4 linked regions of the Homo sapiens genome follow. The protein of the gene in region 1 purifies or fractionates together with the protein of each later gene. This does not show direct contact. Each region holds a gene or a part of one and is shown in the gene's direction. Other genes may lie near its edges.

The links.
Region 2: the proteins of P4HA3 (region 1) and MTCL1 purify together in Homo sapiens (co-immunoprecipitation; 3 studies listed by BioGRID and IntAct, with this or other methods). This does not show direct contact.
Region 3: the proteins of P4HA3 (region 1) and TRPS1 purify together in Homo sapiens (co-immunoprecipitation; 3 studies listed by BioGRID and IntAct, with this or other methods). This does not show direct contact.
Region 4: the proteins of P4HA3 (region 1) and ZMYND8 purify together in Homo sapiens (co-immunoprecipitation; 3 studies listed by BioGRID and IntAct, with this or other methods). This does not show direct contact.

What each region holds. Positions count from the first base shown.
Region 1 is NC_000011.10:74,266,622-74,273,646, reverse strand, and holds the end of P4HA3 (prolyl 4-hydroxylase subunit alpha-3 isoform 1 precursor), read left to right. Parts: intron 1-39; coding exon 40-102; intron 103-3,926; coding exon 3,927-3,995; intron 3,996-5,405; coding exon 5,406-5,502; intron 5,503-5,835; exon of another isoform or gene 5,836-6,051; intron 6,052-6,328; coding exon 6,329-6,399; coding exon of another isoform or gene 6,400-6,586; 3' UTR 6,587-6,990; downstream 6,991-7,025. UniProt on the Homo sapiens protein: Catalyzes the post-translational formation of 4-hydroxyproline in -Xaa-Pro-Gly- sequences in collagens and other proteins.
Region 2 is NC_000018.10:8,820,540-8,827,564, forward strand, and holds part of MTCL1 (microtubule cross-linking factor 1), read left to right. Parts: intron 1-927; coding exon 928-959; intron 960-3,631; coding exon of another isoform or gene 3,632-3,677; exon of another isoform or gene 3,678-3,819; intron 3,820-4,159; coding exon 4,160-5,693; intron 5,694-7,015; coding exon of another isoform or gene 7,016-7,025. UniProt on the Homo sapiens protein: Microtubule-associated factor involved in the late phase of epithelial polarization and microtubule dynamics regulation.
Region 3 is NC_000008.11:115,665,970-115,672,797, reverse strand, and holds the start of TRPS1 (zinc finger transcription factor Trps1), read left to right. Parts: upstream 1-3,822; 5' UTR 3,823-4,253; intron 4,254-4,784; exon of another isoform or gene 4,785-4,914; coding exon of another isoform or gene 4,915-4,924; intron 4,925-6,828. UniProt on the Homo sapiens protein: Transcriptional repressor. Binds specifically to GATA sequences and represses expression of GATA-regulated genes at selected sites and stages in vertebrate development. Regulates chondrocyte proliferation and differentiation.
Region 4 is NC_000020.11:47,353,675-47,360,601, reverse strand, and holds the start of ZMYND8 (MYND-type zinc finger-containing chromatin reader ZMYND8), read left to right. Parts: upstream 1-3,902; 5' UTR 3,903-3,931; coding exon 3,932-3,945; intron 3,946-4,165; exon of another isoform or gene 4,166-4,187; coding exon of another isoform or gene 4,188-4,222; intron 4,223-5,081; exon of another isoform or gene 5,082-5,152; intron 5,153-5,968; exon of another isoform or gene 5,969-6,927. UniProt on the Homo sapiens protein: Chromatin reader that recognizes dual histone modifications such as histone H3.1 dimethylated at 'Lys-36' and histone H4 acetylated at 'Lys-16' (H3.1K36me2-H4K16ac) and histone H3 methylated at 'Lys-4' and histone H4 acetylated at 'Lys-14' (H3K4me1-H3K14ac).

The sequences.
Region 1 (7,025 bases):
TCTGCATAAAATAATATGTTCTGTTTTTTTTTTTCTCAGTCACCAAGCAGCCCCCTCTACAGAATGAAGTCAGGAAACCGAGTTGCAACATTTATGATCTATGTGAGTATTGCTCTGGGCTTCTTACTTCATGACTGACTATAGCTCTACTTTATTTTATTGTTTTCAAAGCAATTTCACGTATTGATTTTATCTGGTACTCAGCGCAAAAATCTCCAGGAATTTTGCGAATTTCAGACAGCATTTTTGATAGGCACTGTAGGAGATGTAAAGAAATACAAGACAAGGTTTCTACCCTGAAAGAGGCTGACAGTGTGTAAATCTAAATATGACCTTGGTATGGGCAGTGGATTAGGATGGGAAGTGGAGCTCCACTGAAGGCCAAGAGATAGAGGGACTTGAACAACACAGGAGGAGGATCTGAGAATCTGTGTCCTTGAGGTCTCATGGACTAATCAGTGTTGAAAAACAACCCATAGATGAGGTTGTGGGGCTGTGGGGAGGGAGATGGATGAGGAATGAGGCAGCAGATTTACAAGAGGGAAGAACAGAGACACTGAGAGAAATTCAGCAAGTGCTGCCTCTGATGTTTAGTGAAAATTCTCTTCCTTATCTCTCTATAAAATCTTCAGTAAAATCTCCATGACTCCCCTTTCAAGATAAACCAATAAATTGTACTTCTCTCCTAATTCCTGGCCTGATCAGGATTCGGCCCCAGTCTGTATCATCTCACCTGTCCCCTTCCCTTCAGATCATGTGGGTTTACTTTCGTCTCTATGGACAAGCTTCCAATCACCTGTCACTGGAAGAGAATATTAGAATTAATCACTTATTAGAAGAGATACCTTACTGTTAACTGAAGGGACAAACATATATAAGGGTTCTATATAACAACCAAAGATGAAGTCCTTGTTTCAGCCTCATTAGAATAGCAGACATCCCTCACCCCAGCTTTTCCTCTTCTATTAGGACTGTCTCTGGTCTCCACAGGACAGCCAAGAAAGGGCAGTCAGAGGCCAGCATTCTGTGTAGTCTTTAATGCCAGCAATTCCAGTGTGTTTCTCTATGTGGCTCAGTTCTGTACTTCCTATGGAACTGGAAGGCTTCCACTTACAATGGTGTCTGGCCTCATTCTGATCATTCTGAGGTCAGCTATCAGGCAGGGGACACATCTTGGAGCTGCAGTTGGTTGCATCTCTGGTTGACCACTCCAGCTGTTATGGGAGGTCACAAACGGCGAAAGAATGAACTGCTGCCAAAAAACAGGGCATCTAGGGCACAATATATCTCTGTTCTTTATCCCCTCAATATCTCCTATGGCTGGTTCCCTGGTTACAGGGCCCCAGTTACTATAGCGAAGGTAGCGTGGGTATAAGAGCCCAGTAATTTTAAATGGCAAATGCATGTGTGTGTGTGTGTGTGTGTGTATGTGTGTGCATGCACTCTCATGCACTTTCACATGTGTGTGCATGCATGTGCATTTGGGTTTTAAGTATTTGAGACAGAGTGGAATGGAATACACTTTGGATTTGGAGTCAGTTGACCTAATCCTGATTTTGCCACTTACTATGTGGCCTCAGCACAGATTACATCTATTATGTGAGCTCACTTTTTGCCCTGTGCTTCCTCACAGTGTTGTTGTGAGGGTCTGATGAGATAATGTAAGGAGGGATGTCACTCTGGAAAGTTCCATACTGTATGTTTCTGTCATTGTATCCCACAGAGCAATTAAAGGAAAGGGTATCATAAAGGGGAATCAGTATCATGGGACCAGGGAAGTGCTAGATTATGCCCAAGTCTTTCATCTTCAGGTTGGGATTTCTCGAGACAATTTCAAGACAAACATTTCTCAAGACAAATGTTAAGGTTTGTGGGAAACCTAAGACTGATTTTATAGGGAGAAAATAATCTTTAAGAAGTACAGAGGATTGAGTTGAAGTCCAGTTGGTGATTTTCTGCTCAGATTGGACATAAGATCAGTCCCAATCTGGGTGCGGTGGTGTGCACCTGTAGTCCCCGCTACTTGGCAGGCTCAAGCAAGAAGATCGCTTGAGCCCAGCAGTTCGAGTCCAGCCTGGGTAACATAGTGAGACCCTGTCTCTATTAAAAAAAAAAGATCAGCCCCAGTACAAAATAGTAGAAGGTATACAGACGGAAGATTTCTCTCCCTTTCCCACTGTTCTTACAGCCCATGCCGTGCTCATGAGCTTCATTGCATGCAGAATCCGATTTTCTTTTTAATGTGTTGGCTATGTCATTCCTTTCCACCATATTGTAAAACCACAGGTAAAAGAATGCAGGAAAGTCCAGGTTGCCCCTTACTGACAAGGGCTAGAATAGAATAATCTAATTTGTTACCTGAACACAAGGAGCCAATTGTTGTTCTCATCGGCTTTCCCAGTGTGCTACAGGGAGAGCCAAGGAATGCTAATAGTCACCACTGCCATTTCCAGGTTCCAAATCACCATGTCAGTTCACTTGCATCTACCAAGGGCCAGCGTCCTACCTCCTATACCTCTTGCTCTGTAACACAAGTAAATGTACCGGGATCTGACTGCCATAAGATTACAGAGCATGAACCTTCTGGTAGATAATGCTAGGCAGCGTGAGGTAAAACTGGCACTCTTGTGTGATGCAACTGCTGAAAAAATAATTTAGCAAAATGTATAAGAAGTATGAAACTTATGCATGTCCTTTTGACCCCATAATACTAGTGCCAAGACTCTTTCCTATGAAAACAATCCAAAATGCAAAATGATTTTTTTTCATTAAGTTGTTCAGTGCAGTGTTGTTTATAATAGTAAACATTTGGATATGACCTAAATTTCCAAATGTGTAGCATGATGGTTATGAGCAGGGACTTTGTAGTCACATGGCACCAGCTCAGCTCAAATCCTGACTCCATCATGGAAGAGCCATGTGACCTTTTATAAAGTGCTTAAGCTCTCTGAGACTTGGTTTCTTTATCTGTAAAATGTGAAGAGTTAAAAATAATAACGATTGTAACTCCTAGGATTGTTCTGAGGAATAAATGAGATAATATATTTGCAAGGACATAGTGTAACTTTTAGCATATAGTCAGTGCCCAATAAATGTCAACTATCACTATGTAAACTATAACTTTTTTCTGGATGGTACAATGATAATTATTGTTATTTAAAAATATTTTCCTGTTTTAAAACAGTTTACAATTATTATATATTTCTGTGACAACCAGAAAAAAAGCTTCACATTAAGAAAACATATCCATAGTCCTAGAACAGACCAGTGATGAAACTCCTTAGCTTGGGTTCCCTGGAGAGGAGCAGAGTGATCTGGAGAATATGCCAAAGGTGTAATAAGTAGTTCCTATGATGCCCAGCTTTCAAGAAGAATCATAGTCTAAACTGGTTTTCAAGCCACAAGTCATGATCCATTATAGGTTGTGAGATTAATTTAGTGGTTCTGATGAGCATTTAAGAGAACCACACTAGAATAGAATAAAATAAAGTAGAGAAGATCAGAAGCTATCTCAGATATTAAGAATGTTTTATGACAATTATATTTCAGGAGGTGTGTGTGTGTATGTGTCTGTGTGTGTGTGTATGTGTGTGTGTCTTGGGTCATTATTTAAAATGTATTTTTTCCTAAGGGTCTCAGTCAAAAAGTTTGAATCTACTTATTGTAGCCCTCAATAAGGATGTTAGCTGGAAGGGAAAGAAAGGAAGAATACCAAAACATTGTCCTCTTGTGGCCCTGTAGGCAAACACCAATGCCATTGAGTAGGCTCCCGAAGTTCCTCCTGAGTTGGATGATTGTCTTTCAAGTATTTCTCTCAGAGTTGAAGAAAAGACCATGAGAAGGAATCTATGCAGATGTGACATCATATGACAGGGTAGGGAAGTCGGTGGCAGTTTTAACTCTGGCTTCTTCCTCTGGTCTTGTAGCTGAGCTCGGTGGAAGCTGGAGGAGCCACAGCCTTCATCTATGCCAACCTCAGCGTGCCTGTGGTTAGGGTGAGTGGGGCCCTGGTCCCAGAAGACGGGGTTGAGGGAGTGCAGCGCTTACCCTCTAACCTTCACGCTGTCTGTGCTTGCAAGCCCATTCCTGGGAGGAGGGCCAAAAAGAGGTCTTCCCCAATTCCCAGAATCACAGATCATCCCATAGTCTTCTTTACTACCGCACACATGCTCGTCACTTGTGCCTCTATTTGTTATTTTATTTACACTTATATTGCAAGTAGATGATTACATGTCTGTCTTCCCTGTCACAGTACAGCTCCTCAAGATAAGAGCTCTGTTTTATTTACTTTGGATCCTCTACAGCATCTAGTTCCTTCCATCATTAGTTCAGTCCACATTGAGAGCTAGAGGCACGGAGGGTGCAGAGGGAAATTCATAGCCCTTTGATCCAGGAGTTTACAGAGACGTCAGCAGGCATTATGATGTTGCAATAGGGATTTGGAAAGGATAGGCGCTGAGGAGAACTGAGTCTAAGAGGTTTGCTTCATGAATGAGTATTTCCTCCAAATTTCAGATCAGTCCAACTCCCTGGCAGCCCTTACCTAATTTAGGAATGAAATGAAGATAACTAAACGAGATCATTCCTGTAAAGCAGGTAGTACAGTGCCTGGCACATCCTGAGCATTCGATAATCAATGCCAGGTATCTCTGAATACTCAGGAGCTTGACGCCTCTTGTAGGCTTAGGAACATAGAGACTGCCAATGCATCCTGGAAAGCTCTTCATGACCTGGAGTTTTGTCTACTTTGAGGACCAAGGTTAAAGTAATTTGACTACAGGAAGTAGATACGGCAAAGAAGCCGTGTATGGGGGAAAAACATACAGGATTTAGCGTCAGAACACCTGGGCTTGAGTCCTCACTTTGCTCCTTCTTTTATTGCATTATTTAAAGCCCTGGGCCTCAAGTTCTTTGCTAGGAAACTGGGGATTATGATACTGCCTGCTCCCTGAAAGTGTTAATCATAAGTGCCTGAGGGAGGAAAAGCTTCTGAGTTAATGACATGCTTGGCTGTATGGGAATATTTTGTTCCACCTTGTGGTTTTGTTCGGTGTTTCTCCTCAGTGACCCAATGACAAATGTGCTCACCTTTCTCCCAGAACTCACCATGCTGTCTTGTTCAGGTCTGTTTTATGTCTGTTTCTTGTGAGCTCCTGGAGAGCAGAACTGGACGTAATTTGTCCCTGCAGCCCCAGGACCTGGGGTGCAGGGGACTCTGTCAGTGACCCATGCATGAAGGAGTAAATGGCAACTTATGCCATTTTGTGCCATTTTATGCATGCATTGCCCCCAGACTGCATGGAAAGGCTTCTTCAATGACATGCCTGCATTTGTCCTTAGTATGTGCTTCCCGAGGACTGAGGTTCTGGGCTGACCCTCCCTGGGGCTGGGCCCTCTTGTTTCAGAATGCAGCACTGTTTTGGTGGAACCTGCACAGGAGTGGTGAAGGGGACAGTGACACACTTCATGCTGGCTGTCCTGTCCTGGTGGGAGATAAGTGGGGTAAGTCTTGCCTTTCTGGGCATGAGAAGGGGGTACAGGGTGCAGAGTAGAGTGAAACAGGGGATGGGTGGGACCTACCACAGCCATCCCATTCCAAACGCTTCATTACAGTGCCACATTATATTGAGAAGATCAGATTATGAATGAGGTGCCCCCAACAGACTGGGAGCCTATAACAGGCAGGGGTTCCTGTTACAGAGTGACAGTCAGTAAAGGTTTATTCACCTGACCAGATAGGCCTTGATTCCTGAGCACTGCCAGAGAGGAATATGGTGTCCCATCCACACTCTACCCCAAGGAAAGATGTGTCAAGCCATTGTCTCTCCTGTTTAGTGCTCCCCATGAGGAGGTGGGAAAACAAAGAAGAGATCAATAAGCAGATGGACGTGTTTATGTCACATATACATCCAGGAGCACTTAGCTCTGAAACAGAAAGAGAAGTGGAAGGGGGCTCATAAGCTGAGGTGGAGGCTGCCAGGAGATGCCACCCGTTTTTCTCTCAGTACTCTGGAATGGCTTCATGGGGAACATGGGCTTCTAAAATGAAGGGTGAGTGATCTTAGTTCCCAAACGTTTGAAAATGAGTTTACAGGAGACAGGACCTGTGACTTTTTTCCAGAGGACAATGTCCTCTTTGCTATTTATCTGCTGGAAGAAACAGCTTGTAGTCCATAGTGAGGCCAGGACTAGGCTGGGCAAGTGAGTTACCTAGGATGCAGAATTTAAGGGGGCACTCACACGCGCCTATGAGTGCGCACCAGTCTGCAGCATTGCTGCTGTCTGTTCTGCTGAGCCTGCTGTCTCCTTCTTCCCTGTTCTCTCCCAGTGGCCAACAAGTGGATACATGAGTATGGACAGGAATTCCGCAGACCCTGCAGCTCCAGCCCTGAAGACTGAACTGTTGGCAGAGAGAAGCTGGTGGAGTCCTGTGGCTTTCCAGAGAAGCCAGGAGCCAAAAGCTGGGGTAGGAGAGGAGAAAGCAGAGCAGCCTCCTGGAAGAAGGCCTTGTCAGCTTTGTCTGTGCCTCGCAAATCAGAGGCAAGGGAGAGGTTGTTACCAGGGGACACTGAGAATGTACATTTGATCTGCCCCAGCCACGGAAGTCAGAGTAGGATGCACAGTACAAAGGAGGGGGGAGTGGAGGCCTGAGAGGGAAGTTTCTGGAGTTCAGATACTCTCTGTTGGGAACAGGACATCTCAACAGTCTCAGGTTCGATCAGTGGGTCTTTTGGCACTTTGAACCTTGACCACAGGGACCAAGAAGTGGCAATGAGGACACCTGCAGGAGGGGCTAGCCTGACTCCCAGAACTTTAAGACTTTCTCCCCACTGCCTTCTGCTGCAGCCCAAGCAGGGAGTGTCCCCCTCCCAGAAGCATATCCCAGATGAGTGGTACATTATATAAGGATTTTTTTTAAGTTGAAAACAACTTTCTTTTCTTTTTGTATGATGGTTTTTTAACACAGTCATTAAAAATGTTTATAAATCATTTTTCCCAACTGAGAATATTCTTACATTATAATG
Region 2 (7,025 bases), on another chromosome or scaffold:
AAATTATATTTCACCCACATCAGTAAGGTCAAATGCCTTATCCTCAGCAATGTGTACCAGGTTGATAGGACATTGCCACAGTCCCACCCTGTCTGATCTATTGGCAATCTTATACAGTCCGATTACATAGTAGAGGTAACGTGGGGTGGGGTCAGGAGCCTGTGCGTGGGTTCCAGCCCACTGGACCCTGCATGGCAGAGACAAGGGGCATGCTCATTAAGGGGAAGGGTACCCCTTGCTATTTACTGTCTTGAAAAATATGCTTCCCTTACTGTTAGTCAGAGTCTTGCTGCTTCAAAACCACATCAGCACAAGAGTGTTTTCTCAGCAGACAACCTCGTGTTTATGCCGTTCTCTACAAACACAGCTATCATTCTTCTTAAAGGGGAAGGCACTGTACTTTGCCTCTGATTCTAAATGGGAATGTTTAAAACCAACCAAGTGCCCGAGTCTAAGGATGTCACGCCAACTTCTACAGCAAGATCGGGACCACTAACGTTACTCTATCACCTTCCATCTTTCTCTCTAACATAACACATGCACACTCTCTCTCTCTCTCTCAGTCTCACTCTCACACTTAGGTTGTTACAAATCCCGCTTTGAAATTCATGTAGTCAGTGAGGTCCTTTGAGGAAGCACAGAAGAGCCACCTCCTCCATGACAAAGTTTATAGCCAGTTGTTCTCACTCATGTGGGCTTCTCCCTGGACTACAGAAGCTCCAGCCCCTCATCATGCTGTGGACTCGCTTTGATGATTGTACTTTAAAGGCCTCAGGGCAGTAGCACTCCTAACCAGAGCTTGGCCTCAGTGCACATTTTAAATGGTGGTTTCCTGGGGGTGCAGAGCAAACAAATCACTTAAGTACATTCAGGGCTTCTGGACAACCAAAATTAACCGATTCAGATGAAGTTATTTCTTCTTTATAGGAAGAAGAAAATCACAAAGGAAATCTTCAAAGGTAAGTAAGATTGATGAAAATAATAGATTACTAGAATAAAAATGTCTTGGTCTTAAAATGTTGTTTTGTCAATGCAGTCTATTTTACCACTCTCTTCAAAATGACTTAAAATTATGCCACTTCTGAAGAAGTGGCTGCTTTATTATTCATTTCATAAACATGGTATTTTTGATTATTAACAAAGAAGTTAGACGTGCTGTGTCACATGTGTATGAGTTTTATGGTAAGGACTTTCCAGTTGTTGTTGTGTTATGTATACAAAGGAATGCTTGTGTTGAGTGGTTTTTGAAAGGTCCATGGAAACCTCTCTTTTCTCATTTAAAGTCTGGGAAAACTCTCTTTTGTATGCTGTGAGATGCTTTATACACTGTATTTAAAAGCTCCACTAAGAGAATTTATTAAAATATTTTCTGGCAGTAGTCCTTGAAGAAGATATATAGTGGTTGATGTGGTTGTTAGTTACACACCAGTTTTTTCCTCCCCAGTTTAATTTCCTCCAGTTTTACTTTTTCATCATTCTCCAAATGAATACATACCGTTTCTACTACATGAAATTTCTTCTCAGGCAATTCAGCATTTCCAGATCGCCTCATCCTTGATTTTCCTCTGAACTTCGAGTCTGTGAATGACTGTCCTCTTCCCATTTGCTCCCTGCCAGATCTCTGCAGCACCTAGCCATGCCTGTGGCACACTTCTGTCCTTCACGCTGTCTTCTCTGGTCTTTCTTGGGTGGTACAGGACAGTACTTGAGAGCTCAGGCTCTAGAGCCAAACTGCCTGGGTTGGTTGGTTGGTTGGTTGGTTGGTTGATTTTTGAAATGGAGTCTCGCTCTGTCTCCCAGGCTGGAGTACAGTGGCACAATCTTGGCTCACTGCAACCTCTGCCCCCTGGGTTCAAGCAATTCTGCATCAGCCTCCCAAGTAGCTGGGATTACAGGCAAACCCCACCATACCCGGCTAATTTTTGTCTTTTAATAGAAACAGAGTTTCGCCATGTTGGCCAGGCTGGTCTCGAATTCCTGACCTCAGGTGATCCACCCGCCTCAGCCTCCCGAAGTGCTGGGATTACAGGCGTGAGCCACTGTGCCCAGCCCAAACTGCCTGGGTTTGAATCGCTTCTGCCTCCTTGGGTAGGTTACTCAACTGCTTTGTGCCTCAGTTTCCTCATCTGTATACAGGACGTATTTTGATTATCTTTTTTTTTTGCAGCTTATGTATGTTAATACACATAATGAAAGCAGCACATGGCACAAAACAAACAGTAAACAGAGTTTAGTCATTACACCCTCCCACCTTCCCCGTTCACAGCAGCAGCCACATCAGTGTTTCCGGTTAGGCTTTGGAGCAACTGTACTTCACCACTCAAGCCATCAACTTTTATGCTTTCAAAAGTAACACATGCTTGTTATAAAATGTAAATATTGGCTGAGGCAGGAAAATTGACCGAACCCGGGAGGCGGAGGTTGCAGTGAACCGAGATTGCGCCACTGCACTACATCCTGGGCGACAGAGTAAGACTCCGTCTCAAAAAAAAAAAAAGATAGATAGATAGATAGATAGTCTCAAAATATCCAAAGTGGAAACTGGATGCGCCCTCCCCACTGTCCCCATGTCCTCTGATTCTGACTGCCCGGTATGTTTCCACCATACTCTCTTCGTTCCACCTGCAAGCGCCTACACATGCTCCAGATGTATCCCGGGTTTTCTCATCATGGTTTTGTTTGCTTTGGCCACTGCTGAGGTTAATGCCTCTGCTTTCTCTGTCTTTATCATCTCTGTTCCACCATATCCATCCATGCCCCAGAGGCACTGAGTTCCCACCCAGGTAGGTGCCACTGATTTAACTCTGAGACAGTTCCTCTGTGGGCAAAAGTGGGAGTTAGATGAGCTATGTCCACAGAAATGTGGAAAGGACCAGGGTGTTGGCATGTGTCCGGCACTTACAGTCCCCAGCGAACAGTGTTCTGAAACTCATCATTAATTCAGCAACTCCTTGAATTGAGAAGAGGGAAATTCATACTTGCTGGAAAGCTCATGACCTTGGGACAAATCAACCCATCCCTACCATTGCCCTTCCTTTCCGGCACTGGATATAGCCAGCTTGTGGTTATTCAAAGCACCACTGGACAGTTTGTAGATTATTTCTAACAACAAAAAGATAACAAGATGGAATGCCTAACGATGTCACTTTTAGCCTGCTGTTTTACCCCGTGGTGCTGACCACATGGACGGGTGCCTTGCCCCCAAGGTGAAGCCAGCTGTCAGCAAAGCTGCCCAGAGCTTTGCTGGTTCTGTGTACCAGCGCACACGGTACAGGGACTTGCTCAGAGCAGACCCCAATTCTGGCCTCATCATCATTAATAGGTCCTATGGAGGAGTGGTCCATACACTCAATCTGGGACCCCTTCCACAGGGCCTGCACTAGTCTAGATCCCTAGGTTTAAGCCTGTGCTTTGTGGGGTGAAAGGAGTATCAGTATGTCCTGTAAGAATCTGGACAGTGAGTCTACAGACACCTCATCGCCCCATCCCACCCCAGCTGGAGGGATTCCAGGCCAAAGAGGTTCTGTTGCCTGAGCCAGCAGGCACAGGCAGCCCCAGCCCCGTTCCTGACCACCACTTCTTTGCCCTGGTGGTAGTCGTGCCCGAGCACTCCGGCCACTTTCTGTCTTAGCCTGGAAGCATTGCTGGCACCCCTGCAGCACCTGCCAGGCATGTGAGAGGCATTCAGCGAACTCATGGCAAATTGAAAGTGCTAACACATGGAAGAATCCACACCAAATCTGTGTCCATCAGGTGGCAGCTTGCCAAAACCTGGCCATCGCCGTGGCTCACCGTCTTCACCCTTCAGCTGTGGTCCGAGTGAGTCTCCTGAGAATTCTCACTGAGGCACTGAGGCCTCAAGTGATTCTCCTGTCTTGGCCTCCCAAAGTGTTGGGATTACGGGTGTGAGCCAGAGTTGGTTGTATTAAATTCTGACCAATGCAAGGCTTCAGGAACAATTCCAGAGCCACGCAGAGTCCAATAAATGCCCGCAGGGTAAGTCTGTGAGTGCAGCACATGAGCAGCTGACAGTGTTCTCCTGGTGTGGGTGGCAGCGGGTGCCTTCACTGACACTTCTCATGCAGGGCAGGACATGGGTGTTGTGGTGTGTCAGAGGCTCCCTGGCAGGTACTGACACCCTCTTTTCTGCTTTTCCCAGGGCGGTGTCCGTGTCCTCCATGTCTGAGTTCCAGCGTCTAATGGACATCTCCCCCTTCCTGCCTGAGAAGGGCCTGCCGTCCACCAGCAGCAAGGAGGATGTCACCCCACCCCTGTCTCCAGACGACCTCAAGTACATCGAGGAGTTCAACAAGAGCTGGGACTACACACCCAACAGGGGCCACAATGGTGGGGGGCCGGACCTTTGGGCCGACAGGACCGAGGTGGGGCGGGCAGGGCACGAGGACAGCACAGAGCCTTTCCCCGACTCCTCCTGGTACCTAACCACAAGTGTCACCATGACCACGGACACCATGACCAGCCCAGAGCACTGCCAGAAGCAGCCACTGCGGAGCCACGTCCTCACCGAGCAGTCGGGGTTGCGCGTGTTACACAGCCCGCCTGCCGTGCGCAGGGTCGACAGCATCACGGCGGCAGGTGGTGAGGGTCCCTTTCCCACAAGCAGAGCCAGAGGGAGCCCGGGAGACACCAAGGGAGGCCCTCCAGAACCCATGCTCAGCAGGTGGCCTTGCACCTCCCCCAGGCACTCCCGGGACTATGTGGAGGGGGCACGGCGCCCCCTTGATAGTCCCCTCTGTACCTCCCTGGGGTTTGCCTCCCCACTGCACAGCCTGGAGATGTCCAAGAACTTGAGTGATGACATGAAGGAGGTGGCCTTCTCTGTCAGGAATGCCATCTGCTCCGGCCCTGGCGAGCTGCAAGTCAAGGACATGGCCTGCCAGACCAATGGGTCCCGGACGATGGGGACCCAGACTGTTCAGACCATCAGTGTGGGCTTGCAGACTGAAGCCCTGCGTGGCAGCGGTGTCACCAGCAGCCCCCACAAGTGTCTCACTCCAAAGGCTGGGGGCGGTGCTACACCCGTGTCGTCTCCTTCCCGGAGCCTTAGGAGCAGACAGGTGGCCCCTGCCATCGAGAAGGTGCAGGCCAAGTTTGAACGCACATGCTGCTCCCCCAAGTATGGTTCTCCCAAGCTGCAGAGGAAGCCCCTCCCCAAAGCCGACCAGCCAAATAACAGGACGTCACCAGGGATGGCCCAGAAAGGGTACAGTGAGTCAGCCTGGGCCCGCTCCACCACCACAAGGGAGAGCCCCGTGCACACCACCATTAATGATGGCCTCTCCAGCCTCTTCAACATCATTGACCACAGCCCCGTGGTGCAGGACCCCTTCCAGAAGGGGCTGCGGGCCGGCAGTCGGTCTCGCTCAGCAGAGCCCCGACCAGAGCTGGGCCCAGGCCAGGAAACAGGCACCAATTCCCGAGGAAGGTCGCCTAGCCCCATTGGGGTGGGGTCAGAGATGTGCAGGGAGGAAGGGGGAGAGGGCACGCCAGTGAAGCAGGACTTATCTGCTCCCCCTGGCTACACGCTCACTGAGAACGTGGCCCGGATCCTCAACAAGAAGCTGCTGGAACATGCCTTAAAGGAGGAGAGGAGGCAGGCTGCCCACGGGCCCCCGGGTCTCCACAGTGACAGCCACTCGCTGGGGGACACAGCCGAGCCAGGGCCCATGGAGGTAATGAATGCTGAGTGCCCCACACCCTTCCCCACCAGCTCTTCCCTTTAGCTGTGGGGCAGGTTGGGACTTGGGATTGTGCTCTGTCATTTGATCTCAGGAATCGTCCATGATTGGTTATTGGGAGCTGGGGAGGTGTTAGGTTTATGGGAGAATAGAATAGGCAGAAAAAGCCCTGAGCAACTTTTTTGAAGAAAATGTTATTTTATTGTCCTTGGGAAATCATATAGTACATGGTTTGATTTGGGTTCTGTCACCAGTCTTAAGTGATTGATCCTTATTTATCAGGGCATTTTATTTGGGGTCAGTTTGCCTTCTTTCTGTGTGAATTCGTGCACATGTACAAACTATGGGATAGTTGTGTCAGGCTTGCTGCATACTGCAGACCTTCATATGTGACAGCATGAGGTGAGCTGGAGAGGGTCTGGACCACATGAGCACGAGCACTTCTCATCAGGAGCCACAAGATCTCGATTCCTGGGCTGGCTTCCTTACAAAACAGCCATCTGGCAGCTCACAAATCACTTACCCTCTTTGTGGCCATGAGCCCCCCTAGCAGTAAAACCAAGTGAAACATATAGACAAAATCAAAATCCTACCCTAATACAATATGATTATCATTATTGCCCTTGATATTACTCACAAATCAATCCACTGTGAATTGGGTTCTGATGCACATCCACATGTGGTGTTTTTGTACACCACTTTACAAAACGCTTCCCATTTCCACTTCAACAATGAGCAAAATGAAAGCCTGATGTTGATGCTGGTGGTGATGGCTATGGTGATGCCACTTTGTGGTTCGTGCAGCACAGAGAGGACGTGTCTGTCCAGCGAGTGATTCCAACTCGCCAGGAGTCCGGATGAACAGGCTTCACACTGGGAACACCTGGCCCCATGAGCACTCTCCGAGCCAGGCTGCTCCCGCAGATGGCGGGGGTCAGAGGAGGAGGAGGACGGCAGCTTGCTCCTGGTCTGCCCGCTGCTTCCTCGCCAGGACCCAAGCAGCCCTGGCTTCATGGGCAGGGAGAGGAGGAAGGTGTATTGCCTGTTTCACCTGGCCCACGTTTCCCACAAGAGGGTAAATGATGGCTGTCTTCCCAGCCTGGCCCACCAATGAATGTTTAACTCAGAATGCAGGCTTGAAATCTGAATAGGTCAGACCTGTGGAACTGCCAATGGCTTACAGAAGTGGCAATTCCATATGGTTCACACCTAATACAAATATTGATACTACATGGCCTACATGTTCCAAGATCTGAGTCTTTGTGATAAAGTTGTTTGCATGCTCTGAGGACAAACTGCTGGTTGAATGTTCTCAGGTGACAAATG
Region 3 (6,828 bases), on another chromosome or scaffold:
AACGTTGATTGCCGAGTGATTGTGGGAAGAAATAAACTTAAGGTAGTTCATCTCTGATAATGCCTCTGTTCCTTCAGGTCTTACCGTGAAGGAAGGCAGAGTATTTCAATAATTGCTTTTGATATGCTGGAAGGTAAAGGGTCTTCCATTTCACATGGGGTAGGACTAACTTGAAAGCAAATAATACATAAATGTTTTCTTGATAGTATGTGTTAAAGCAGTCGGCATTTAGGACCAAGGGTTGTCAATCTTTGAGGTTTCTAAAAGGAATTGCAATTTATGACGTGTTAGGGTAAACAGTTGGATTACATTTCTGAAATACGTGTTCCATCAGGTAAAATCATTGTGATTACAGGCACTGGAACTGTAAGTAAGTAGTGTGCTAAAAGGTTGAAAATGTAAAACAAGTATGCTTGTGCTTAACTACTAATCCCTCTTTGTATCTCTGCTGAATAAACTACAAGAAAAGGGGGGAAAAGAATGTTTAAATAATAAAACAGAAAAAGTATATTATAGTATGTCATTTTGATAAATAATATGCATTAATAATACAGCTTGAGGAACTGTTTCATCAGTGCTAAAGCCACAAGAGAAGATTCCATAATTCAAAGAATTATGAAAGATTATAAAGAAATTATTTTAATTAAAATGTGCTTCTTTTGTTTGCTTTTTTCTTTCTCTTAATATCTTCTTTATTTTCTGGTGTGTCCTATAAAAGCACAGGTTGTCTTTTTAATATCCAGTCTCCATTGTTCAGAAATGCGTTGCAAATAAGGGAATGGTTTTAAGAGTTTTGCATATGTTTGACAGCAGAAGGTATTAAATGTAAATAAATCTTTAATATTTCCCTTAATTCAGTTTGTGCCATGCAAATGTCAGGACTAGAAAAACAAATCAACAAACATTTCAAGGAAAACAATATACGTAACTTATTTTATACATTAAAAACAACTGTCAAACAATTATGACCTCATGTATTAGTTGGTTGTTTTGAAATATTCCTACTAGAATTAAAAAATGCTATGAGGGCCTTTGAGCTTAAACATATTGTGTCAATCAAGAGCACATGTAATGTATCTAAAGCATGAGGTAAAAATTTTCTTCATAAATTATTTCATAAATAAATAAGTAATTTGCTTGCAAAAGTTTACAAAAATATTTGAGCTTTTATTAAGTTCTCTACAGATCCTTTGTGGTTAATGTAAATGAATTGATACAGACAGCAGTTTGATCTGCTCTACTCTAACTTGAAATACAAAAAGTAACATGAAGAGATTCTTCATTTCTCAGGCAAACTTCAGCAAGATTGAGTCCGTGAAACTTCATTCATTAAATTTTTAAGTGACCATGAATTTGTTGGCTTCAGTACCTGAAGTGTAACTTTATCCTTTCAATTAAAAGACATAATTCACCCTCAGACCTTTGGCTTTAACTTTTCATATAATATGTAATTTTGGGTACACTTAATAGTCAAATTTTGTATTATTACAGGTGGAAAAACACCAGCCATCTCAAGGGCTTTGTGCTTGCAAAAGCATGTAATTTCATTTTTTTTTTGAACCAATTTAATCAATGATTGTTTCATGTGAATAAATTTACAGTCTTGATGATTGCCTTAGATTTGTGGGTGATGGAGAGGAAGATCACTTCCCCTTTTAAAATGTCATCTAAATCTTGGGGAGCAGAAGGAGATTAGGGGCCTAATCCTTGTGATAAATTGTACTATTTAACTTTGCTAAGATGCTATAGCCTCAGATTTTATCAGTTAGATACCAGCTTCAGCAGTTTTAGGTGATATTAACCCTTTCAATACAAAACAGTCTTACTGTTCGAATACATATTTCAAAATTGATTTAATATTTTTAGTTAGTCATGGCTCAAGAATGTTTCACTCAGATCCTTATTTTTTTCCTTTAATAAAAATGCTTCTCACTGTGCCGTGCATATTTCCATAAAAGTCAGCAAGTTAATTTATGGCTTAAAAAAAGAAAATAAAAGGTCTATATTTAATATGTGAATACATTTTACAGTGGAAATTGGTGGTGGACAGTATTAAATGACTCCAGTGTGGAAATATGCAGGTGGTCATTAGTAGCTGACTATGAGATTTACTGAAGATTTTGATATTAATTTTCCCGGCATGCAGTACTATATATAAATCTAACTCTGTTCTCAAATTAATTTAAATGGATGATAACATATGAATAACTCCAGGCATATGAGGCTCATTGTCTTCTCTCTCCTTTAGGAAATATATTGTTTGCCTCATTGTGAAACTGTATTTTGACTACTTTTTCACCTGACTAGTTTCTCTATTGCAAAAGAATTATTGGTTTTCTACTCATAAAGAGTGTATGGGAAACGGTACCAAAATACTTCTGGAATAAATGTGCTACAAAAAAAAAATCACATATCTGCTTGACTAGGTATATTAAATAAAGACCATAGAGAAAAAGGAATAAGGTTCTAAAAGCACCTACTTCAGTTTTAATTTTTTAAAATGATTGGCTTTTTCACTTCTGATAATAGTATGTTTGGAAAATATACCCATCTTTTCTCTAAAAAGATGCAAGAATCATTTAGTGAAAAATATTTTGGAGGAAATTACTTCATCTTCGGCTCTCAGATTCATGATTGTACCTAAGATTCTAATTTTAATCATTTTGTAGTTTGGAAAAGGAAAGATGCTTCTCCTTTTAGCACAAAATTACTTTAAACTGACTTTCACCAGAGGAAAAACATGCCACTTAAAGTCACCCAACTGAAGAAAATGAAGTCCAAACGCCCAAGAAATGTTTACTTTGTTTTTAACACCTACTATACTTTGAATCCTGTCATGGTAATGTTTTATGCATTGTTGATCTTTAGAAGTCAAAAAAAAAAAAAAAAGCTCAATCCAGTGAACTTTATGTTGAGGCAATTTCTCTTAATAATGAGAGTATATGGAGATGTAAAGTAGGTAAAAAAGAATGTCACGCTTAATTCAGAGTTCCTTATCTGCTACTAAAACCCAAACTGCATGTATTAATCTTGCAGCATTTGAATAATGTTCCCATTTTGTCTGTTTTGTGGTACCCCCTTAAAGCACCCATTGAGTTTCTGGCTTCTCTTTAGCTCAGAAAACCATAGCAACCTCAGTCCGCACTTCTCCAACTCAGGATAGAGTTCAAGTTGTTCTCCTCAAGCCTTCTTGCCGTGAAAATCGTGGGGAATCCTGATCACCAACTAGGTGTCCTAAGACTTCTTGCCACAGATAAAGGGCGGGGGAGGGGGCGCACACGCACACACACATCCTGCGTCGTTTAATTGGGAGAGAGAAGGGAAAGTAACAACAGAAAAGGTAAAAGGACTTTGAGAGTTCTTTAAATTGTTTCTGTTAGCATCTCTGAGTGTCTGGGGAACGTCGGTTTGGCGGCCACGCACTGCCCCCCACCTGCCCCCCACTACCCCAAGGTAAGTCCTCGTCTTTATCACATTATTCCTAACGCGTTCGGATTTTTCCTCCTTTTCCAGCCCGCACGTTCACAGACGGGAGGTGGGGGAGGGAGGAGGGGGGAGAGGCGGGGCGGGAAGGTAGCCGGGTCCCTGCACCGCGCCGCTCTCATTTGCGGCGCTCCGACTCGGGCGAAGTTCTCGCGCAGCCGGCTCGCCGCGGCCGGGGCCGGTCCCGGCGGGCGGCGGCGGCGGGTGCTCGGAGCCGGGCGGGGCGGCGGCGGCGGCGCGGGGACGCGCGCTGTCTCTTTAAGGGAGCTCGGTCTGGGGTGGCGCTTTCCTCCGCGAAGGCTCCTTTGATATTAATAGTGTTGGTGTCTTGAAACTGACGTAATGCGCGGAGACTGAGGTCCTGACAAGCGATAACATTTCTGATAAAGACCCGATCTTACTGCAATCTCTAGCGTCCTCTTTTTTGGTGCTGCTGGTTTCTCCAGACCTCGCGTCCTCTCGATTGCTCTCTCGCCTTCCTATTTCTTTTTTTTTTTTTTAAACAAAAAACAACACCCCCTCCCCTCTCCCACCCGGCACCGGGCACATCCTTGCTCTATTTCCTTTCTCTTTCTCTCTCTCTCTCTCTCTCTCTCTTTTTTAATAAGGGTGGGGGAGGGAAAGGGGGGGGAGGCAGGAAAGACCTTTTTCTCTCCCCCCCGCAATAATCCAAGATCAACTCTGCAAACAACAGAAGACGGTTCATGGCTTTGGCCGCCGCGCCACCATCTTTCGGGCTGCCGAGGGTGTTCTTGACGATTAATCAACAGGTAAGGAGGGGAGGCCCGAGCGGGCCGCGGGGCCGGGGGCTGCGGGGGGCGCGGGGGGCGCGGGCGCCCCTCGGCCGGGCCCGGGGCGCCGCGACGCGAGTGCAGCGCCCGCTCGTGTGCGCGCAAAATGTGGGCGATCGCGAGCGGGGAGCCCTGGGAATTAAAAGTGACTTTCTTTGAAAAAAAAAAAAAAAAAAAAAAAAGCAGAGGGAGAGTGTGCAGAAAGCCAAGCGCAGGCTTCTCGGGTTTCACATGCATTTTCTTTCTTCCTTTTTGAGCGTGTGATTTCTTTCTTTCTTTCTTCTCTTCTGCTCCCTTTTTCCCCCTTCCTCTCCTCCTTTTGGTGGGTCTGAGGCATCTGAGCTTTGGAAACCAGCGACTTCAAACTGCAGTAGCCCCTGGAGTCAGCAGGGTCAAGTTCAGCCGCCGGGGAGGAGGAAAAACAAATCCCCATTTGCCAAAAAAAGAAGTTTCAGGCCGGTGCCCCCTCCCCCTCGCAGCCCCACTCCCCCTCGCTGTCTCTTTCTGGCTGATTTTAATTCTCTCCTACCGGGCGCAGCGGAGGAGCTGGAGGTGGTTGGACCCGAGGGGCCGCCGCCGCCGCCGCCACTGCAAGTTTTCTGGGGGCTCGTGACAAGCGGGGCGCAGACTAGGCACCAGCATGCAGAGTAGTAAGTTGGGCGAACTCGGGAGGGTCGGGAGGGTCTCAGAGACGGGCCTCCGTATGGTCTCCAAAGTGGGAAAACAGCACAGGACTGCCTTTGGCTTTGAAGAGTTTGCAAATGCAGGCTTCAAACTTTTTTCCCTTAAAGGCCCAGCTGGGCTCTGGAGAAGGCGGGTGTCGCATCCCTTGGTGCACCCGCCTCAGAGCGGCTCAGGACAGCTTGGCCGAGCGGTCTGTGCCCTGTCCGTACCATGTGGCAGGGCCTTGCAGCCCGGGCGCTTCCGTAGGGGCTGAGGAAGGGGCAGACTTCCTCTGCGATGCGGTTGATGCGCCATGTGTCGCGCGGGTCAGGGGACACTGGCCGGTGATTAAATGCCTGACAGCGGTGGGACATCCAAGCGGACAGACGCTTTGCCTTCTGTCTGGTTCCTGTTTGGGATCTAGAGAAACGCATCTTTGAAAGGCCAAGGCAAACATCGCTGTCCCTCCAAATAACTCCAGGATTATAGGACCCCAGGAATAATTTGAGGGTGAGGCGGCGGTGGGAGCTGTTTGAAGTGTAAAGCTGTTTTTGTGGCTGGGAAAGCTTTTTCGTTAGTACCTGTCTGAGATGGTGGTGTTTCCCCCTTTCCCCAGGGAAGTCAGCAACTGTTTTATGGCCCCAGGACTCTAAAGCAATTTAAGTTAGAGGGTGAGAAGGACTGGTGGGTTTCAGAGGGAATCTTGGACTTATTAAATTTTAGGACCGGCTTTACTTCCCTCTATCTTTTTAGGCCTCATATTTGATGCTTTGAAAGTTTTTTGAGTAAGCCATTGATCTTAATGATGAATCTAAATTATGATAGAATATTCATTCTTATGCCATTTTGGAAAATCACGGCTAGAGTTTAAGCGAGGTAAGTGAAGTGAGAAGCTCAGCGGAGGAGTTAAATCTGAGACAAGTTAGGCCTATTCATTGAACTTTTGTAGATTCATTGAACTTTTGTAAACACACCAGGTGAACAGGAAAGGAAAGGGTCTGGGAGAGATAATAAGTACAAAAGAAAAATACAGATAGGGCCTGAGACAAAATTACAAAGAAATGATAACTCTGGGCCTGGTTGTTGGCTAAAACTTGATTGTTCAAAGCAAAAATAAAATAGGAACCTTCCAACAATTCTTCAAAGTCCTCCAGCTCTGAAGCTAAAACCTATGGATCTTGCTGGCATCATGTTACTTTCCTGCTGGTTTTAGAAAAAGTTGATCATTTAGAAAAGGCTGCCAGAGTTAAAAATGCAAGGGACAGCAGAGGAAAGTCATGCGGGCAGCCAGTTCTTGACGTGGACAAAATGAGAATGAAAGTTTCTGAACTCACTGTTGTGAAGTTTTACATGCCGCTCATTTGCTTAGAAGGCTCTCTCAGATATTCCACCAGTTAACGTATAAAAGCAAACAGGATCTAAAATCGTGTGGGCTTTTTTTTTTTTCTTTCCCCAAGTATGCCAGGGTTGTGAATAAATACAGGGTTTGTATGGGAAGATGAAGCGTTTCCTGTAAGTTCTGATGCTGACAGGACAGTCTGGAAATGATACCAACATTTTGAGGATTTTTTTTTTTTACCTTTAAGTGAAAGTTTATTAATGATATGCTTAATCTTAACAAGTCAAACATATTCTTAGAGTTTCTCTCTCCTTGGATTTCATAACTTCCTTTTAAAGCTACACCTTTGGATAAAAACATCTCTAGATTCAGTTCAATATACAGGGCTAGTAACATGCTAAAGTTTGACGATTATTTCTGGATGTTAATAATGTGAAAATAAAACTCCTGAGGGGCAAATAGAGCCTTAATACCAACATTATAACTTGATTTCTCTGAATGTGAGGCCTTCTGAAGCTTCATTAGTACTCTGTTGGCGAAGTATTATTTACC
Region 4 (6,927 bases), on another chromosome or scaffold:
ACTCTGCCTGGCTCCCCACAGCCTGATTCTGTACCCCAATCCTCTCTGTACCCTGGGAATATTAAGAGAGACACGTTTTAATCTATTTTTATTAGCTCATTGCTTATTAATATCACCAAAGAACCTGCTTGTTTAGGCCTGTGCTGGCTTTTCTAGCCAGAGGCAGAATGATTGGACTGTTTTCTTCCCTTTCCTTAAAGGGCTTAAAGCCAGGGTTTCCCAACCTTGGACATTTTGGATCAGATACTTCCTTGTTGTGGCGGGGCTGGTCTTGTGTACTTATAGGATGTTTTGCATCATCCTTGGCCTCTACCCACTGGATACCGGTAATACAACCTCCCTAACTGTGACAACCCACACGTCTCCAAGCATTGCCAAATGCCCCCTGAAGGGCAAATCCCCCCATGGTTGAACCACTGGTTTCAGGGAATATAAAAGCCTAATTTTAGAGATGGCAAAGTGTTCCCCCTTGACATCTTGCATCTTGCTGGAGGTTGGGAGGGAGAGGGTCGCTTCCTCTGGGCCTCAATCTGTAATGAGGGGCATTTGAATGAGTCTAATCTAAAAGTTTCCTTCAGCGCCATCATTCAATACTGAAAACCCACCTCAAAAGGGTGGGTCTTCAGGTTGCAGCATTGAGTTGTGATGATGCCACTGCACTCAAGCCTGGGCGACAGAGCGAGACACTGTATCAAAAAACAAAAAAGCAAAAAACTGGTCTACCTCCTAAAAGAAAACACAGATTATGCAGTTGCTGTTCGTAGGTTTCAGCCTCATTGTTTCTGCTGTGCTTGGTTCGGCTTTGCTTTTGCTTCTTTCTTTAGAGCCAGGAGAAGGTACAGAGTTTAGGGATGTGAAGTGCTAACGGGGTGGACATCTGATCTCTGGCACTTCCCAGCTGTGTGACCTTGGGCAGCTCACTTCACCTCTCTGGGCTTAGTTCCAGGTTTCTAACAATGCCACCTACTTCAGGAATCAGTCTATGTAAAGCACTAATTTAGAAGTAACTGCTGGGATACTCACTGCAGTGGGGCTTTAAGAGGAGCTGCTGAATGGATTTCTAGATTGAGACCTGCAACATTTGGTTTTATTTCCTGCTTATCAGCCACATTCCATGAAGCCCAGGACCAGCCCTTCGTAGGCCTGCCCCAGGCTTTCTTTTCAATCTGTGTTCCTCCCAGGATTCCATCTGCCACCATACTTTTGTGTCTGTCCCCAGCCGAATTGCTGTTTTCCAGATAACCTCAGACCTACCCGAATGCCAACAGCATTCCTCAAACAGAGCAGAGCTGCCAGAATAAGCCAGCAGCTTCCTGCTCTTTGCCCCAGAAAACATTTCAAGTGATCAAGTGATCAGAGAGAGGGAGGGAGGCGGGGAGGATGCTGTAGCTGCTTATGCAACAAGCTTTAATCCCAGGTTAAAATCCACCACGCACACCAGCGGCATATTTTATTTCCTCATTGGTTCGTGGACTTAGCTGCATGGGAGATCTGCCACCAACCCCACAGTCCTGTTTGTTCCCCTCAAAGCAGCACCCGCAGAAACAAACAGCATTCCATATGGGATGGCGGTGGAGGGCCGCTGCCCACACAGCTAGGAGGGTGAGCACGCACTGCTTCACTGTGGCCTCCACCTCTCGCCTCCTCCCATTTAGTCTCCCCATGCAGCTTTCTACCTCCAGGAAGAGCAGGCCCCTCCCTTTTGGTGAGGCCCAGGCCTGCTGTCCTGAGCCCTGGAGCTTTGTCAGGTTGGGTGGCCATGGAGCTGTCCCTCCCTGCAGCTTGGCCTCAGCAGCCTAAAACAGTAACAACAGCAACATCCTGTCCGTTTTTATAAAGCCTGGGTCCTGCCCTGCCGTACAGTGAGTTTCGATTCCCAGCTCGTTCCTGAGCCTGTTTGATATGAGATTCCCGGCCAGGAAGAATTTATGTACAAGCAGTGGGCATCTGTTGTCCATGTGGGGGTTGGGGGGGGGCAGGGAAAGCAAGCCATCAGCTCTTCGTTTTCTTTGTGGGAACCGTGTGGGACAAGAAAGCCCACAAGTCCTAATTTTAGGAGGAGAGGGGAGACTTTATTGCTCCGGAGTTATGCCTCCTGGCATATGGCTGCGTTAACTCTGGACGCTTTCTCCAGCCTCTAAAGAATGGTGTTTATTTAGCTTCTGTGGTTCCAGGTTGCTGTTTTAAAAAATCCTGTTAATTAAGCACCTTGTCATTTAAAATGCCGAAGAAGGAAAGAGAGCGAGAAAGCTGGGGACATTTTACGGTCCTTTTCTATCTCTGGGTACAGACCAACTGCGAAGGCAGCTTTAGGGAGGAGACCAGCAAAGACCTCCTAACGCAATTGAAGTGGGTAGAATTGTAAGCAGCTCTGAACAACCAGTTAATATTTTACTGGGGAGCGGTGCCAGAGATGGGGGGGTGGGGGGGCTGCCAAATGGAGGGCTGTGTGTGAAATCGCTGCTCCATCTGCCTTGGGGGACGAAAAGAAGCCGTTCTCTGTGCAAATAAATGGAAGCAAGAATCCTTAGGAAGCCCAGGGGATTTGTCTGCCCACCGAGGAGGGCCCAACTCCCCCAGGCACACACATACAGGGATGATTGTGGCAGGAAGGGCTGACCTACGGGGGTAGGCCTGACGCATAATGGGGGCTCTTGTTTCCGGGCTGAGCGTGCCATCTTTCTGTCTCCCTCTGGATTGAAATGGCTTCTCAGCCCGAGAGGCACTGCCTGTGCCCTGGATTCACAAGGTACACGCCTCCCTGGGAAGCAAAGGCTGAGAGACAGCGGCTCTCTCTCTCTCTTTCTGCATCTGCCGGGAGAGCTGCAGCTGGTATTTTTCCACAGGCCTTCGCTGCGATCTCAAGGCCTAGTTTTTCCCAGCCAGGCCCCGAGTCCGAGAGAGGGTTAACAGGCAGGAAGCCGAAGGCATCGCAGGCTAATACGGAAGTCAGATTTGTGTTTAACTGACAGGTTTAGCAGGTCTCGGCCGCGGGGGAGGGGCCGGGAGGGAAGGGAAGTTTGTAGATCCAGGCATGTGGCCTGCGAGGAGGGCTTTGGGTTTTTCTTAGGGTAAGGACCGAGAGGGGTCCCCCTTGGCATCGTGGCAGGGCGACAGGAACCCACGTTGATTTTGCCTGCAGGACTGGCTAAGCAGGGCGCGAGAGGCCCACGGCTCCCTGGCCTGCCTTGCAAGGAGGCATGGGGACAATGACTATGCAAACTTGACCACTCTGCTCCCCTCCTCCCCTCAGCAGCTACTCCTCGCTCCTCTGAGAAGCCAGGGCTGCTCTCTGCTGATTTTTCGGGGCTCCCCCGGGCTGCCTGCTTCCCCCAGCTTCTCAGAGGCCTGCCTCAAGCCCCTTTTTCTGGCCCCTTGGCTGTTTCCCCGGGACTCCCCACTCCCCAGCTTCCCCTTCCCCTTGGAGAGCCACCCTGCTGGACTGTTCTAGAAAAAGGCTGGCCTTCCTCCCTGGACAAGGGCCGTTTCTCTGGGGGCAGGTGAGGGTGAGCCGTTCCAGCCCACTCCAAGAAACTCCCTTCCCAGGGACCTCCGGGCCTCAGGCTTTCCTGGAGCAGGTCAGGCTGGCTGCCCTGGCTGGCCCGTGCCGGGAAATCTAGCCAGGGTGCAGGAGAAGTGCGTGTGGGGGCCCCTTTCCCAAGTTTTTCTTGCTGCAAAAGGCCTAGCTTAGCCTGTCTTTTTCTATGCACAGGATGGCTCTTGCTCACCCGAGCCTCACAAAGATAATCGCTCAGGAAGTGTTTCAGCCAATCCGGGGCGGCTTTACACTCCGATTTGCCGGGGCAGCCAATCGGGGATGAGCTTTTATTAGGCGGCCAGATCATCAGCCGAAGTGCCAAACCCTTTTTCTGTGAGAACTAGGAGCCTGTCCTCCATGTTTTATAAGTATTGACATTACACAGTGTTAACAATGCATCCACAGAGGTAAGCTCGACTTTTTAACCATCTTTTTTCCCCCTCCCTCTGAGACATCCGAATTGTGGGCGAGCAGTGTGATTTCTCTGTGGCTGGCCGTGCCACACTCACCCCCAGAGCACTTATGTTAACTTGGAACTGTTTAGAGAGAATTTTTTTGCTTTCTTGGGTCACATGGCTCAGTAGCCATTAGCCATAGCTTGATTTTGCAAACTGGCAAGGGCCTGGCACACCTTTCCTTCCACCAGGGCATGGTGTTTCTGGAAGAGTTTGAAGCTAGATCCTGGTATGCCAAAAAAGAAGCTTTTTTTTTTCCTTCTTTTTTTTTTTTTCTTTCCCTCTTCCCTCTCTCTTCCCCTCTCTCTCTCTCTGAGCAGTTCCCCCCCTCCCACCCCTGCACTATTGTCTTCTCTTTTGCCACATGCCCTGCTGGGGGAAGAAAATGGAAGGTAAGCAAACAGGCTCCTCTCCAAGGAGAGCTCATGGCAGACAGCAGAGCAGGCAAGTTTGCCTCTCCAAAGAGGTTCTGGGAAGGCTGGATAAGTTTTGACAAGAGAGGAGCGTGTTTGCAAAAGAATTGTGCCCTCAGCAGAGCAGTGCTAAGGAGAGTCTAGCTCCTGGGGCCTAGGTGGGTGGTGGTGTCTGTACACGGTCTTCTCTTATTCTACAGAGCTTCTGCACTTGAAACTACATTGTTCAGCCTGTTTTCCTGACTTAGGTTGCTACAGAGTGTTCTGCAAGCCAGCCTACAGCCAGCAAATGTTTCTGAAAGTGTTTTCTAGGCTTTGGAGGAAGTTTTTTGGAGTAGGGATGGGGACTGGGGGGTGGGGGGAGAGATCTTGGACAACATCCTGCAAAAAAAAAAAAAAAAAAAAATCTGCAAGGATTCTGAATCCCTTAGCTTTCTACTCTTGCATGATTTTCAAGGAACTAATGTTACCTTTTATCCTTGTTTTCATTTTCCTGTCCCTTTTATACATTGTATCCTCCTCTCTTCTCCTGTGTCATGGAGTGTAGAGGAAATAAAATCATGTCTGTGGCTCATGACAGCATTCCATATTCAGTTGTTGGGTTGTGTTGTTGTTGTTGTGTGTGTTTTTAATAATACCATGTAACTGTTTAAAAAAATTTCCTTTTTGATCAAGTCCCAAATCTGCCAGCCTGTTCTCTCTTCCTAACTGTGGAAAAATGAGACGGTTGCTTGAACATTTGTTGGGTAAGTAAAGCAATCCATTTCCTCTGTGACCATGTTTGAAGAGTTTTGCGAACATTTGGGGTCTGTTTGTAATAGTGGGTCTTGGCTACAGGAGTTGGGGGCTTCATTAGCAGGAACAAAATAAGGGCTTTTTAAAGAGTGTCTTGATTTTAGGTGACTGTTTGAATCCACTGTTTTTCCTGATAACCTGCAGCTAGGATTGAAGATTATACTTCCTGTTTACCCTGAGTCAGGGGAGAAATGTTCAGTTCATTGTGACTTGACTCTAGACCTTTAATGGGGTTTGTTTGGATATTCAAACTGTGAGTAGGTGATGTGCTTGTGAAATGTCATGAAACTGCTTGTTCTTAGAGGTGCAGAGCCCTAAAAACATTGGTGGTGTAGAAGCTGGTGGTGGTGGTGGTATGTGTGTGTTGGGGGGGTGGTGTCAGTGTGCTCATGTTTTAGGACTTATGTATAGTGCAAAATCTCATCTACCACCAGACTGGGTTTGATTCAGGACTCACTGACCAACACATTTTGGCCTTTTTTCAGGTCTCCTCCACACATCTGTATGCATGCTGGCCCCACATAAGATTTCTCACTTTTTACATTTCCCTTGACCACTTAAGGCTGCAGCTAGAAGTTAAGTGGGAAAAGTAGAGTCTTGTTTAGCAGTACCTTCAGAATTTCCCTAGAAGTTCAGTACATAAATTTTCAGCTTGGAGACCAATCCGACATGACCGTAAATGCAGGAAATATATTCAATTGCTGTGTTATGTCAACTTTATGGAGTCAGTAATCTTTTTTCTTTCAAATGAGTGTCCAGTAGCCCACTTTCTGACACCGAATTGGAAAAAGGCTCATTTAATCAGCAGAAACGTACCACATTCTAAGTTGAGAAAAGTCTGTGCAAGGCAGGCCAGCTTAGCTTCTTAGAGTAAAACTGCAGGCAGTTAATGATGTTATATACTTAAAACTGAACAGTGCCACTGCCCCAAACAAGTAAGTTCAGACACTCAGCTATTTTCTTTGTTCTTATCTCCTTGCTGTAAATGGAAATTACATATCGAGGTTCTTGTGGCCTCCCTAGAAGCAATATCTAATCATAAGACTCCTGGTTTGGTGCCTTCAACGTTTGCATAATACTGTGTTTGTTGGGCTGGAAGGGAACTTAAGGGCAAGGCATTTGTCCTCTAAAAGCTTGCATTAAAATGGCTCCCACAGGTTTGGAGAGCCAAGATCTGTTTTCAAATGTACAGCCCCCAGCAAGTTCCCAACCCTGGACCAAGCTAGCCACTTTTCCTCTGGTACTGTGACCCCTACCAAGCATGAGTCTGTAAAAAGTTAATTGCTTTCAAAGTAGCATTATTTTCCAGTTTCAGGAAAGGGGGAAAAAAATAAATGTCTGCATTGCAGCAGGACTAGGTAGGGACGGCAGTACTGGCTCCCAGAGCAGCCCAATGGGGTTCTTCTACTCTAGCTTTTAAACCAATAGACTTGGAGGAAAGGTTAAAGATTGACAATTGCAGTGGCCGAACTAAGAACGGGCCTTCTGGAAATTTCTACCATCTTTGTTCCTTTTAGGAAAAGCAGATCTGCCAAGCAGAAGCGTCTCCTACCTTCCATTCCTAGGTCATCTCCCTTCCCTGCTTCCCCCCAACCCCCCTTCTTTTTCTCATCAAGGTAGAATGTTCTCTCTGCCACGTTTGTAAATTGCAGAAGGAGGAACAGAATGTTGGGCTGTTTTCCTTTTTCCTTCTGCCTCCTCAGTCCCCAAAGAGGATACACAGCTG